3 linked regions of the Homo sapiens genome follow. The protein of the gene in region 1 interacts with the protein of each later gene in a biochemical or structural test. Each region holds a gene or a part of one and is shown in the gene's direction. Other genes may lie near its edges.

Evidence for each region.
Region 2: of the proteins of MARK2 (region 1) and RAB11FIP2, one has a biochemical effect on the other in vitro, tested with the Homo sapiens proteins (one study listed by BioGRID).
Region 3: the proteins of MARK2 (region 1) and CD44 form a complex in vitro, tested with the Homo sapiens proteins (one study listed by BioGRID).

The regions. Positions count from the first base shown.
Region 1 is NC_000011.10:63,836,968-63,840,714, forward strand, and holds the start of MARK2 (serine/threonine-protein kinase MARK2), read left to right. Parts: upstream 1-2,142; 5' UTR 2,143-2,539; coding exon 2,540-2,593; intron 2,594-3,747. UniProt on the Homo sapiens protein: Serine/threonine-protein kinase. Involved in cell polarity and microtubule dynamics regulation. Phosphorylates CRTC2/TORC2, DCX, HDAC7, KIF13B, MAP2, MAP4 and RAB11FIP2. Phosphorylates the microtubule-associated protein MAPT/TAU.
Region 2 is NC_000010.11:118,045,508-118,049,254, reverse strand, and holds the start of RAB11FIP2 (rab11 family-interacting protein 2), read left to right. Parts: upstream 1-2,313; 5' UTR 2,314-3,091; coding exon 3,092-3,444; intron 3,445-3,747. UniProt on the Homo sapiens protein: A Rab11 effector binding preferentially phosphatidylinositol 3,4,5-trisphosphate (PtdInsP3) and phosphatidic acid (PA) and acting in the regulation of the transport of vesicles from the endosomal recycling compartment (ERC) to the plasma membrane.
Region 3 is NC_000011.10:35,137,547-35,141,293, forward strand, and holds the start of CD44 (CD44 antigen isoform 1 precursor), read left to right. Parts: upstream 1-1,624; 5' UTR 1,625-1,757; coding exon 1,758-1,824; intron 1,825-3,747. UniProt on the Homo sapiens protein: Cell-surface receptor that plays a role in cell-cell interactions, cell adhesion and migration, helping them to sense and respond to changes in the tissue microenvironment.

The DNA.
Region 1 (3,747 bases):
CATGGGGTCGTGGGCCCAAGAAGCCAGCCCTGCCTATAACCAGTGAGGGAGCTGGTGATAGCTTTCTAGCAGAGCAGAGATGTTATTGGAGCTGGACTTTGGGAAGATTATTCTGACATGTCTGGTGCAGTAGGTTGGAGGGAGTCTAGGCGGGGAGACAAGCTCAGCAGCCTTGTGCAAAGCTAGCAAGGAAGAGAAAGGATAGGTAGGGTAGGGGTTGGGGATGAAGGTCAAAGGGCAGGGGTGAGGCAGGGGTTAGAGCTAGAGTGAGAAGCTTGGAGAAGATGGAGTCTATTTAGACGAGAGTGTGGACCAGGGAGAGACTGCTGGAACACCAACCACCAACTGCTTCCTCTCTCTTTTCCCTGCTTTCCAGACCCTGGCATTAGAGGTGATACCAGGCACAGGAATCAGCAACGTGTCTCCCTTTGGCCACCAGAGGGCAGATGATTCTCAAGGATCGAATTTGGGTTGGGGAGTGAGGTGTTCTCTGTCCTCCTCTTCTCTCTTTCCCTCACCTTCATGGGTGTGCCTTCACCTTCTTCCTCAACGGTTGGGTGCCTGAATAGAGCTGGTATGGGGCATGGGGAGCAGTGCTGAAGTCCCAGGATTTACTAAGAGTGTAGTGATACCTGTTGCCTTAGGAAGTACTTTCATACCCTGGTAATTACATCTGCTCAGATGCCTATTTCTCTGATTGATGGGATGAAGGCTGGCTCAAGATGCTGTAGCTGGGAGTTGGAGGTCAAGTAGCAGGGGTCCAATCAGCAGTTTTCCCAATAACTCCTGGAGCCTCTCTGCTCCTGTACCTTTGGGAACCTGTTGCCTGAGTCTGGTTTCTGACTCCTGCGGGGCCTCTGCCTCCTGCCCACCTTAAGCCACTGATGGGAGGGTGTGGTTCCAACGTGTTCCAGGTACTATGGGTGAGGACAGCTTGGCGCTGGGGAAATCAGCCCAGGATACTCCCTGTCCTTGGTAACGCAGTGTAAGGGGAAGTGAGGAATGGACTGCAGTTGCCATACAGACTTCCTGTTAGTCAAGGGCTCTCCAAAGCTGAGAAGGACCTCCGAGTTCATGAATCCAATGGCTTCACTTTACTGATGGGGAAAATGAGGCCCAGAGGAGGAAAGAAAAGAAACTTTAAATGCCTTATCTTGCAGAGGCATTTTAAAAGGTAACTGGAATTCAGAAATGTCATTTTGAATGTCAACGCAGGAGCAAAGGCAAAGGAAAGAGGAGCCTAAACTCAGTGATGTTATGTGATTTTTCCAAGATCACGCAGCATTGGCACTTGGCAGAGCTGGGGCTGAAATGCAGGGCCCTGGACGCTCCCGCATCCGGTGCAGAGGACGCTGCCCTGGGCCTGCCTGGGGCCTTGCCGAGCCCTGCGGACTAGATGCGGGAATGCACGGATGAATCCACAGAAGCCAAGATAGACGGTGGCAGACAGGCAATAGACTGATGCTGCATTTGACAGGTATATTGATAGGCTAGATGATAAAAAGAAGATGAATTTTATGAGCTGACCGACAGATGGACAGAAATGCAGACAGGAAGCTGCTATAGAACCAGAGGATGCCAATCACAGGGACGGCTAACAATCTTGTTTTGTATTTAGTCAAATCACAAGCACAGACAGGTGACCCACGCTTCCTGTTCAAGGTTTGAAAATGCCCGAAAACTGACGGAAAGACACGAAGCGAATCAGACTCCGAGAGCCACCCGGGGAAACGACCGGGTGCTCGGAGGGCCTCGGGTGTTGCCGGAAATGGCCGACGACCGCCCTCGGCAGGGCTGTGGGAGGGGGCGTGGCCGGCTCAGCACGCGGAGCAGCTTCGGGTATTTCCGGAAACTGCCGAAAGCCCCCTTGAAGTGGGCGGGGAAAGGCCGGTGGGCGTGGCTGGATGGCCGTGGACGGGGGCGGGGGGTAGGCACCCGGGGTCGCTTCGTGGATTTCCGTAAACAGAGCCGAAGCTTCGTCTTCGGAATCGAGGAGGAGAGCGCGTCCCCGGGGTTTACCTTCTTCGGCTGTTTCCGGAATTCACCCGTAGTCTGTGGCCGGGAGGAGAAGGCGCGCCCCACCTCCCGTTTCTAGCCGCTTCGGATGTTTCCGGCTGCTGCCGGCGAAAAGAGCCGAGGGCCGGCGGTGGTGGCGGCCATGTTGGGAGCAGCAGGTCCGGCGGCGGCTGCCTGTGTGCCGGGCGCGGAGCAGTGCCGCTGAGGGCAGGGGAGGAGCGAGGCAGGCGGCCGGCTGCGGCGGCAGAGAGTAGGCGGAGCGGCGCGGCCCGGCCGAAAGGCGGCACAGCCCAGCCGGGGGTCGGGGGGGTGCGGTCCGGAGCCGCTCGGAGCCGGCGCGGCCTAGCCCGAGCGGCGCATCCCCGGGCTGGCGTGAGCGGCTGCCCGGCCTCCCCGCACCCCCGGCCGGGGCCCATGCGGCGGGTGCTCCTGCTGTGAGAAGCCCCGCCCGGCCGGGCTCCGCGCCTTCCCTTCCCTCCCTTCCTCCAAGCTTCTCGGTTCCCTCCCCCGAGATACCGGCGCCATGTCCAGCGCTCGGACCCCCCTACCCACGCTGAACGAGAGGGACACGGAGCAGGTAAGGAGCCCCGAGGGCTCCCCGAATTCTCTGGCTGGGCCCTTTGCACCTTGCGGAGCCTCCTCCCTCTTCTGCTCTCCTCGTGCCCCTGCTGCCATCCTGCAAGCCTCGGCTGCCCTGTCATCCGGCTCCTGGCTCCGGCTCCGCACATCCCGCTTCCGAGTCCTGACCTGGGACCCACCTCGTCCTGACTCCAAGCTGCACACTTGTCTTTCTGCCAACCCCCGTCTCCCCTCACCGCCCTCCTGCGCTCTTCCGTGTCACCTCCCCAGCTTCCCTTTCTCTTCCCTTTTTCTCTCAGGGGCCTTTCTGGTCTTCCTCCACCCACGCTTAAAGCAGCCACCCTCCCGCTCCTCGAATAGCAGCACCCCGCGATTTGCCACAGATCGTTGTCCACCTCTCCCTTCGTCTCTCCTGCCTCGCTTCCCCTCCGCCCGCACCGGTTCTGCCAGTCTCTGGGTTATCACCCTCAGGGTCCTTGCCCTGGACTGCGCTCTCGATCCCTGGCCCCTTGCAGTTCCCCCAGCTTTTTCTACCCTGCTTCTTCGTTTTCCAAATTGTGCTCTCCCTCTTGCTTGCAACCCACCAGCTCCACCCTCATCACCTTTCCAAATCCTTCGCCTACTCTTTGCTCATCACTTTCCCTTCTTTGCTCCAGGAGCTCCCTGGATCCTGGCGCTGGCATTTGTCGCTTCCGTGTTTCCCCACAGCTGTCATGCGCATAGTTTTCCCACAGGTTGCGTTTGGGGTTCCAATCATCACTCCCTTCAGAGTCTTTGGATCCCTCTTGTTCTCTTCCCCTCGGGTTTGGCTTTTAGGTCCCTGGGCCTCTTGTTTCTCTCTGTGAGTGTTCTACCAGCCTTCTACTGGGCTCTTTCTCCCAACCCAAAGACACTTGGCCCCACCGTATTAACACAACCTGTTGCTCAGTCCTTTCCCAGACCTCGCTGCATCACAGTTTTTGCCTTTCTGTCTTCGTACGCTGGAACACAAACCATGATGACTTTCTGTGTCTTCACTCCCGTGCCTGGCACTTAGAGTATTTTCTTTCTTGCTTGTTGCCTTCCTGTTTCTCCACCCTCACCCCATCTTCCTTACTGTGCCTTTTAATCAGCGTTGCCTTTCATCTCCGCATTAGTCTCCTGCCTTCTTCA
Region 2 (3,747 bases), on another chromosome or scaffold:
GAATAAATATTGACTATTTTAACTTTCTGGTCAAAGCATTCTTATTCATTGCTGTAGGCATTGTTAACAGTTTAAAATTAGAATGTTCAGCATTTTCCTTCTAAAATATATTATTTTCCCAAGACTTTGATTTTGGAATTGTACCATACATTTCCGGATGTATCATTAGTCATAGGATAATTTTTTAAAAAGTGACTCTCTTCAATTCTGGTATGTTGTCCTTACACACGCAATCCTTTCCTTTTTAAATTGTTGTCCATGTATATCTTAGAATTAGTCAAAAGAATTTTTAAAACTGTAAAACAATAAACATTTTGGGAGAAGCACTTTGATCCCAGATCTTATGTAATTGTCATTATTTTTCACTATAAGCCAACCATATCTTTGACTCCACTGTCATATTTTTATTCTCTTAATATAATCAAAAAAGGAAAACATTCTATAGGAAGTCATTTCCTTATTATAATGCAATCCCAGATTCTATTTAGCTCATTTGGTTTGTTTGTTTATTTGCTTTCCCCGGGGGCAAAAATATGTTATTTTCTTATTCTGGCTTAAAAAATTTTAAGTCATAATTTCTGATTTCACCAGTAAAACTAAACAATTTTGGCTCTAGCCAGCTGTTGGGAAAACTCAAAAGAAATTTAGGTGCTACAGAAAGAGAGGTTAGTAATTCCAATTGTTCAGCTCTTGCCTTTAGAGTATTCTCTGAGTTGTGTTGGAGTATGTTATTGAGTTGCTGTGAACTACTGCTGCCAACTTCTACCCTAGAGATGGCTATATTTCAGAGATGAGTGAAATTATATTTGTAAACAAGTTTATAATCATTAATAAAGCTTACCAATTTAAGCTCTTCAGAAATACACATCCACTATTATAATTTTCTATTGTTTAATTACAACCTTTAATAGAGACATGAAGACTTTTAAAATGTATAAGAACTCTAAACTTAATTAAATTTGATTTCATGATGTTTATTTGGTTTTTGTAAGTTTCAGGTGTCAAATTATTTCTCCTTAGAGATCCTGGTGAAATTCCACCATTGACTGTTCCAACGTACTGTTTAAAAATCCCTAAGAATATTTTTCTTTAAAGTTGACAACTGTGCACTCTGGGATCCAGATGCTATATTCGCAGTACGATGATTTTGTTCTGTTTTCCACACATGGCCTTTTCATACACTGTCTCCCAGGGATGAAAAATTCTGCCTTGAATGAGAAGTTTTAAACCTTGCTTGAAAATAATAAACACGATACTTTACATGTTTATGGCCATTTAAGTTAAAAAAACGTGCATTTACATGTATCATATTGTTTTACTCTCAAAATTAGTCTTGTAAAGGGAAAAAAGGCATTAAGTAATTCAGTAAATTGTCTGCTGCATGCTAGCCACTATGAAGGGACTGCATGATAGACAAGGCAGTCCCAAAACTTAGAATTTCCTTGGGAAGGTAAGACACGAACAGAATTAACAGCAATGGGGTGGTACATAAGCGTCTCTTCCAATTGAGAAATAGAGGGGCAAAAGGAGATTTATGTGCCGCATTGTGCTAGGAAAGGCACATGTATTATCCCCTGAAACTCGAAACCCGTGTTTGGGGCATGGTCTCCACATGATTTGCACAGTCCACCACAGTGTGAGTCCCCACGGGGGTCCTTTTGACGTCGAGCCCATAGAGTCGTGATGGAGTCTTAGACATGAGGTAGAACTGGCTTTTTTACTCGTGAAAACACTGAGGCTCATGGAGGTGAAATGACTCGGCCAAGGTCACACACACTGATAGCGGCAGAGGCGCGGCCGGAACCAGGTCTTCTGATGCCAGCCCAGTGCCTCCCTACATCTCTACTCCCTGTGGAAACTATTTGCTTCCCTATCGCCCTTCGTCTGGGTGGGGGATGTCATTTTCAGTCAATTTACGGACTTTTCAAAAAGAGAAGGGTGGATAGGAGATTGGAGAAAAGTTTCCTTTCGGTCAGTGAAGAGGCCTGATTCGTTCCAACACCATTTATGGACCTGCTCCTGCCAGGCACTGGGCATCCAGGACACAGCGAACACAGATCCCCTGCCCTCAAAGACGCCCTAGTTAGGGGCGTCTCCGGGTCTTTGATGACCTCCTCTCACGAGCGGTCCCCAGCCCTCCCCAGGGCTCACCTGCCGGCCTCTGCAGGTACCCACGTCCCTAGGACCCGCCACTGGGCCAGGCCCAAGCAGCATCAAGCCCCGGGTCCCCGCCATTGCGCCCGCGTCGCGCGCCTCCAGTCGCCACGGCAACCAGGGAGGTGCTGACCCCTGACCTCGAGGCCCCGCCCCTTCACGTTCCCGAGACCAACATGGAGAAGGCCAACCCGGAAGTGCCGCCGCAGCCGCCCGCCCGGTGTTAGGAGCCGCCGGCCGGGCCAGGCCGAACCAAGCGCCCGCAGCCCTGCAGCCCGCTGCCCGCCCCACGTCCCGCCGGCGCCGGGGCGGCCGCGTTCCCCGCCCTCCCCCACTCCACCCCTGGCTACCCGCTCCCGCCCGAGAGGAGGAGCTGAGGCGAGGGGGAGGAGGAGGAGGGAGAGGTTTGCGAGAGGGAGCGAGGCCGCGTTAGCCGCCGGCGGTTCGTATTACCGGGGTCGGGAGGAGGAGCCGGGCCGAGCCTGCGGACGAACGCCGGGCGGGCGGGAGGCGCGGAGGCAGCGGAGGCTGCTCGGCCGCAAGGAGGCAGGCGGGAGGCCAGGGGTGCAGAATTGGGGCGGGGGCTCCCTTCACCCCCGCAGCCCTCCGCCCGGGTCCGTGTGGCCAGGCCTCACGTGCCCCGCAGGCCTGGGGAAGGTGGAGACAGGGGCGGGGGTCCGCGCAGAGGCCTGCACGGCGCGGCCAGGTGATGGTGGGCCTCTGTGTTTCTCCAGACGAAAGGGGACCCCCGGAGCGGCCGTGCCCCTGGGCTGCCCCCGCGAGGCGTTTTGACATCAGCCATAGGGAAGTCGGGGAGCCCTGAGCCTGCCTGTTTCCGTTAAGTGTCCTTAGGATGCAGTGATTAAGGAATTAGGCTCTCCCTCCGGGAGGGGCACTGCCTGTGCTAGGGAACTCGGGGGCAGAGAAACAGGACAGGATGATGCTGTCCGAGCAAGCCCAAAAGTGGTTTCCAACCCACGTGCAGGTCACAGTGCTCCAAGCCAAAGATCTGAAGCCAAAAGGCAAAAGTGGTACCAATGACACATACACTATAATTCAGCTGGGCAAGGAAAAGTACTCCACCTCTGTAGCTGAGAAAACCCTTGAGCCAGTTTGGAAGGAGGAGGCCTCTTTCGAGCTACCTGGATTGCTAATTCAGGGAAGTCCAGAGAAATACATTCTTTTCCTTATAGTTATGCACAGGTCCCTGGTGGGTCTGGATAAATTTTTAGGGCAGGTGGCAATCAATCTCAATGACATCTTTGAGGACAAACAAAGAAGGAAAACAGAGTAAGTTATGTAATTTATTTTGAATTTGGGGGAGTTTATATCTTATTTATGGTTTTTCTGTTCTTGGAAATTATCCGTATACTTCGGGCGTTGGTTTTTGGATTGAAATATGATCCAGTTTTAAGCACCATATTTGCATGAATCTGAAGTAAAAGTAGCACTCGTGATGAAATATTTTTTAAATGGAATCATTAATGATCCCTTATTCTTTCTGTTAAACATCTGTCAAATAATTGAATATTTTGTGGTGGATTTTAAGTAAGTTAACATTGTTTCAGTATGAGGACTGGATCACAGTATTGA
Region 3 (3,747 bases), about 29 Mb from region 1:
GAGGGTGAGGGCTCTGAAGATAGCGCCAGGTCTTATTTACCTCGATACCCCACAACACTCATTACATGTCTGATGAATGAATGCATAGGGGGATGGCTGGGTGCATTTCTCTCAACTTTTCAATTTCTTGAAATAAATAACAAAATCTTACCTTCCCTCAGAAGTCCTGGCATGGTTCCTTTCATCTTGCCACAGCCACTGATAATCACTTTCATTTTCTGTGTAACTCACCAGGCAAGAAGTCCATGCAGATTTACTTTTAGTAGTTCACATGACAAATAAATACTGCGTTTGATTTCCAAACATTAAACCATAGTATATTATAGATAGATATAGAGTTATCATTCAAAGTATGATATTTCAATCTCAAAAGGCTTCCCCTGAAGAATATTACAAACTCTTCCTCTCTTTAAGATCTGCTGGGTAGGAAAGATGGGAGAAAATGAATTAATGTTTACACAGAAAGGAGGATAATGGGGGCAAAAATAATAGATGAACGTATGGGTGGATGAGAGAATGGATAAAATGATAGGTGGATATGTTGATCTTGGACAGATGGGAAATGAGTGGATATATCAATAAACAGATATGTGGGTGGATGGGTGGAGAAGAGGATGGTGGATGGTTGTGGTTTTATGAAGAGATGTGAAAAAGGAAGTGTGGAATGATGGATGAGAAGTTGTATGGGAAGATGAATAGAAGAATAGGTGGTTGAATAAATTAAAAGGTGTGTGGTTGGATGAATGAATGAGTGGGATGATAGATGGACCTAAGTGGTTAGTGGATGGACAGGAGGATGGATGGATGTGAGAGCCCCAGAAGGACATAAGGAAAGATGGGTGGATAGATGGATGGGCGGATGGAAGGATATTTAGGAGGATGAATGAGCATGTGTGTGGAGAGAGGTGCCCATTCACACTGGCTTGAACACATGGGTTAGCTGAGCCAAATGCCAGCCCTATGACAGGCCATCAGTAGCTTTCCCTGAGCTGTTCTGCCAAGAAGCTAAAATTCATTCAAGCCATGTGGACTTGTTATTGAGGGGAAAAAGAATGAGCTCTCCCTCTTTCCACTTGGAAGATTCACCAACTCCCCACCCCTCACTCCCCACTGTGGGCACGGAGGCACTGCGCCACCCAGGGCAAGACCTCGCCCTCTCTCCAGCTCCTCTCCCAGGATATCCAACATCCTGTGAAACCCAGAGATCTTGCTCCAGCCGGATTCAGAGAAATTTAGCGGGAAAGGAGAGGCCAAAGGCTGAACCCAATGGTGCAAGGTTTTACGGTTCGGTCATCCTCTGTCCTGACGCCGCGGGGCCAGCGGGAGAAGAAAGCCAGTGCGTCTCTGGGCGCAGGGGCCAGTGGGGCTCGGAGGCACAGGCACCCCGCGACACTCCAGGTTCCCCGACCCACGTCCCTGGCAGCCCCGATTATTTACAGCCTCAGCAGAGCACGGGGCGGGGGCAGAGGGGCCCGCCCGGGAGGGCTGCTACTTCTTAAAACCTCTGCGGGCTGCTTAGTCACAGCCCCCCTTGCTTGGGTGTGTCCTTCGCTCGCTCCCTCCCTCCGTCTTAGGTCACTGTTTTCAACCTCGAATAAAAACTGCAGCCAACTTCCGAGGCAGCCTCATTGCCCAGCGGACCCCAGCCTCTGCCAGGTTCGGTCCGCCATCCTCGTCCCGTCCTCCGCCGGCCCCTGCCCCGCGCCCAGGGATCCTCCAGCTCCTTTCGCCCGCGCCCTCCGTTCGCTCCGGACACCATGGACAAGTTTTGGTGGCACGCAGCCTGGGGACTCTGCCTCGTGCCGCTGAGCCTGGCGCAGATCGGTGAGTGCCCGCCGCAGCCTGGGCAGCAAGATGGGTGCGGGGTGCTCAGCGCGGACCCGGCGGCAGCCCCTCCGGCTGAGTCGGCCCTGGGGGACTGGAGTCAAGTGAGCTGTCTGCGAAGTGCATTGGGCTCCGGAAAGCAGGGCTGGGATTTGCGCTAAACCGTTGGAGAATGTGTCTGTGGAAGCACCATTTGGTTGAAAGAAAAAGAGAAAGAGAAGAAAGTTTGTTGGGCAGGCTGCCGGCGCGCAGTTTTGGGCGAGGTCGCTAGAGCTGCAGCACATGGCAGAAAGTAACCGTTCTCCCGGATGCGCACAGTCGTTGTCTGGACTAACAGGCTCCTGTGCCCAAGGGCTCGCCAAGCCCCACCGGGCTGTGTCTAGGCAGGGCAGAGCTGGGCGGGGCAGAGACTGGGGCTGGAACAGGGCGAGTGGCTGTTATCAAGGTGGTCACAGAAGGGATCACAATTCCAAGTGTGAGACTAGCTGGCAATGGGTTTTCCAGAAAGGGGTCCTGGGTTCTCCCAGCTCCCCACTGAGCCTTGTTCCAAAGCTTACAGTCCGCAGTGTCACTGCCACCTTAGCGCTGTGGAAGCTTGAACCAGCTCTGCGGTGAGGTCTTGGGTCTCCATGAGATTCCAGCCTGGGATAGGGAGCATGAATATGAGAGGCAACCACTGGACCAGCTGCTTGGTCCTCACCACCTCCTGCTTCTGCCAATCAGTGTGGGGAAATCTCAACAGTAAGGTGGCTTATATTCCCTGCCTGGCAGCCTCAGAGCAGAGAGAAGAGCCTTGATACCAGGGCAACATCAGGGACCCTGGAGCTAGGGCTCCAATATCTCATCCAAACAGGGTCAGTGCTTTGTGGTGGCTATGGAGGGGAGGGGCTGCGTGTAAGGTATATTCTAGCACGGCTCAACTCCAAGCATTCTCTTTCTTTGTCTATGTATGTACAGATAATTACATGGCCGATTTGCTTATCGCTGGCCAAAATTAATCTTTCTTTTAAGAAGTGCCAGCTGGGTCATTAAGACAGCTCAGCCTGCATGCAGTAAATTCTACTCAGCAAATATTTATTAACCCAGTTCCACGGGAGTACTGAGAAATTGAAACACACAGTCTCACCCAGGTAGTTTAGATTGAGTACCCAGTATAAAGTATCTTGAATTACTTTCTGCTTTCTCTATCTTCCTACTTTCTGCAGTAGGAAGAAAGTGACCCTAGGTGGAGGCTAGGCAGGATGAGTTCTCTGTGCATATGCATCTCCCTTTCTGTGTGAGTGAGAGGTCTTTGCTAGGTGGGGATTTGGGGATCTAGGATTTATACTACTGAAGCTGAAATAATAATAATAATGATAGCAACAACACAGCCTGTCATGGTGGCCCATGCCTGTAATCCTAGGACTTTGGGAGGCTGAGGCAGCAAATTACCCAAGGTCAGGAGTTTGAGACCAGCCTTGGCCAACATGGTGAAACCCCATCTTTACAAAAAATACAAAAATTAGCAGGGTGTGGTGGTGCACACCTGTAGTCCCAGCTGCTTGGGACGCTGAGGCAGGAGAATTGCTTGAACCTAGGAGGTGAAGGTTGCAGTGAACCAAGATTATGCCATTGCACTCCAGCCTGGGTGACAAAGCGTGACTCTGTTAAAAAAAAAAAAATGAATACAGTGCTAGCTACCATTTACTGTATATTTTCACTGTGCCAGGCATTATGTTAAATATTTTCCATGTGTTATCTCATTCTACCCTCACAATGGCCTAGTAAGAAGCTTCCTGTTATCAGGCCTGTTTGACAGGAGGAAAACTGATGCTTAGAGACGTTAAGTGACTTGCTGGCATTCACATAGCCAGGAGCAGTGCTGGATGGAAACCCAGCTCCACTGAGCTCCAAAGCCTAGGCTTAGAATATGTTAGACTGTAT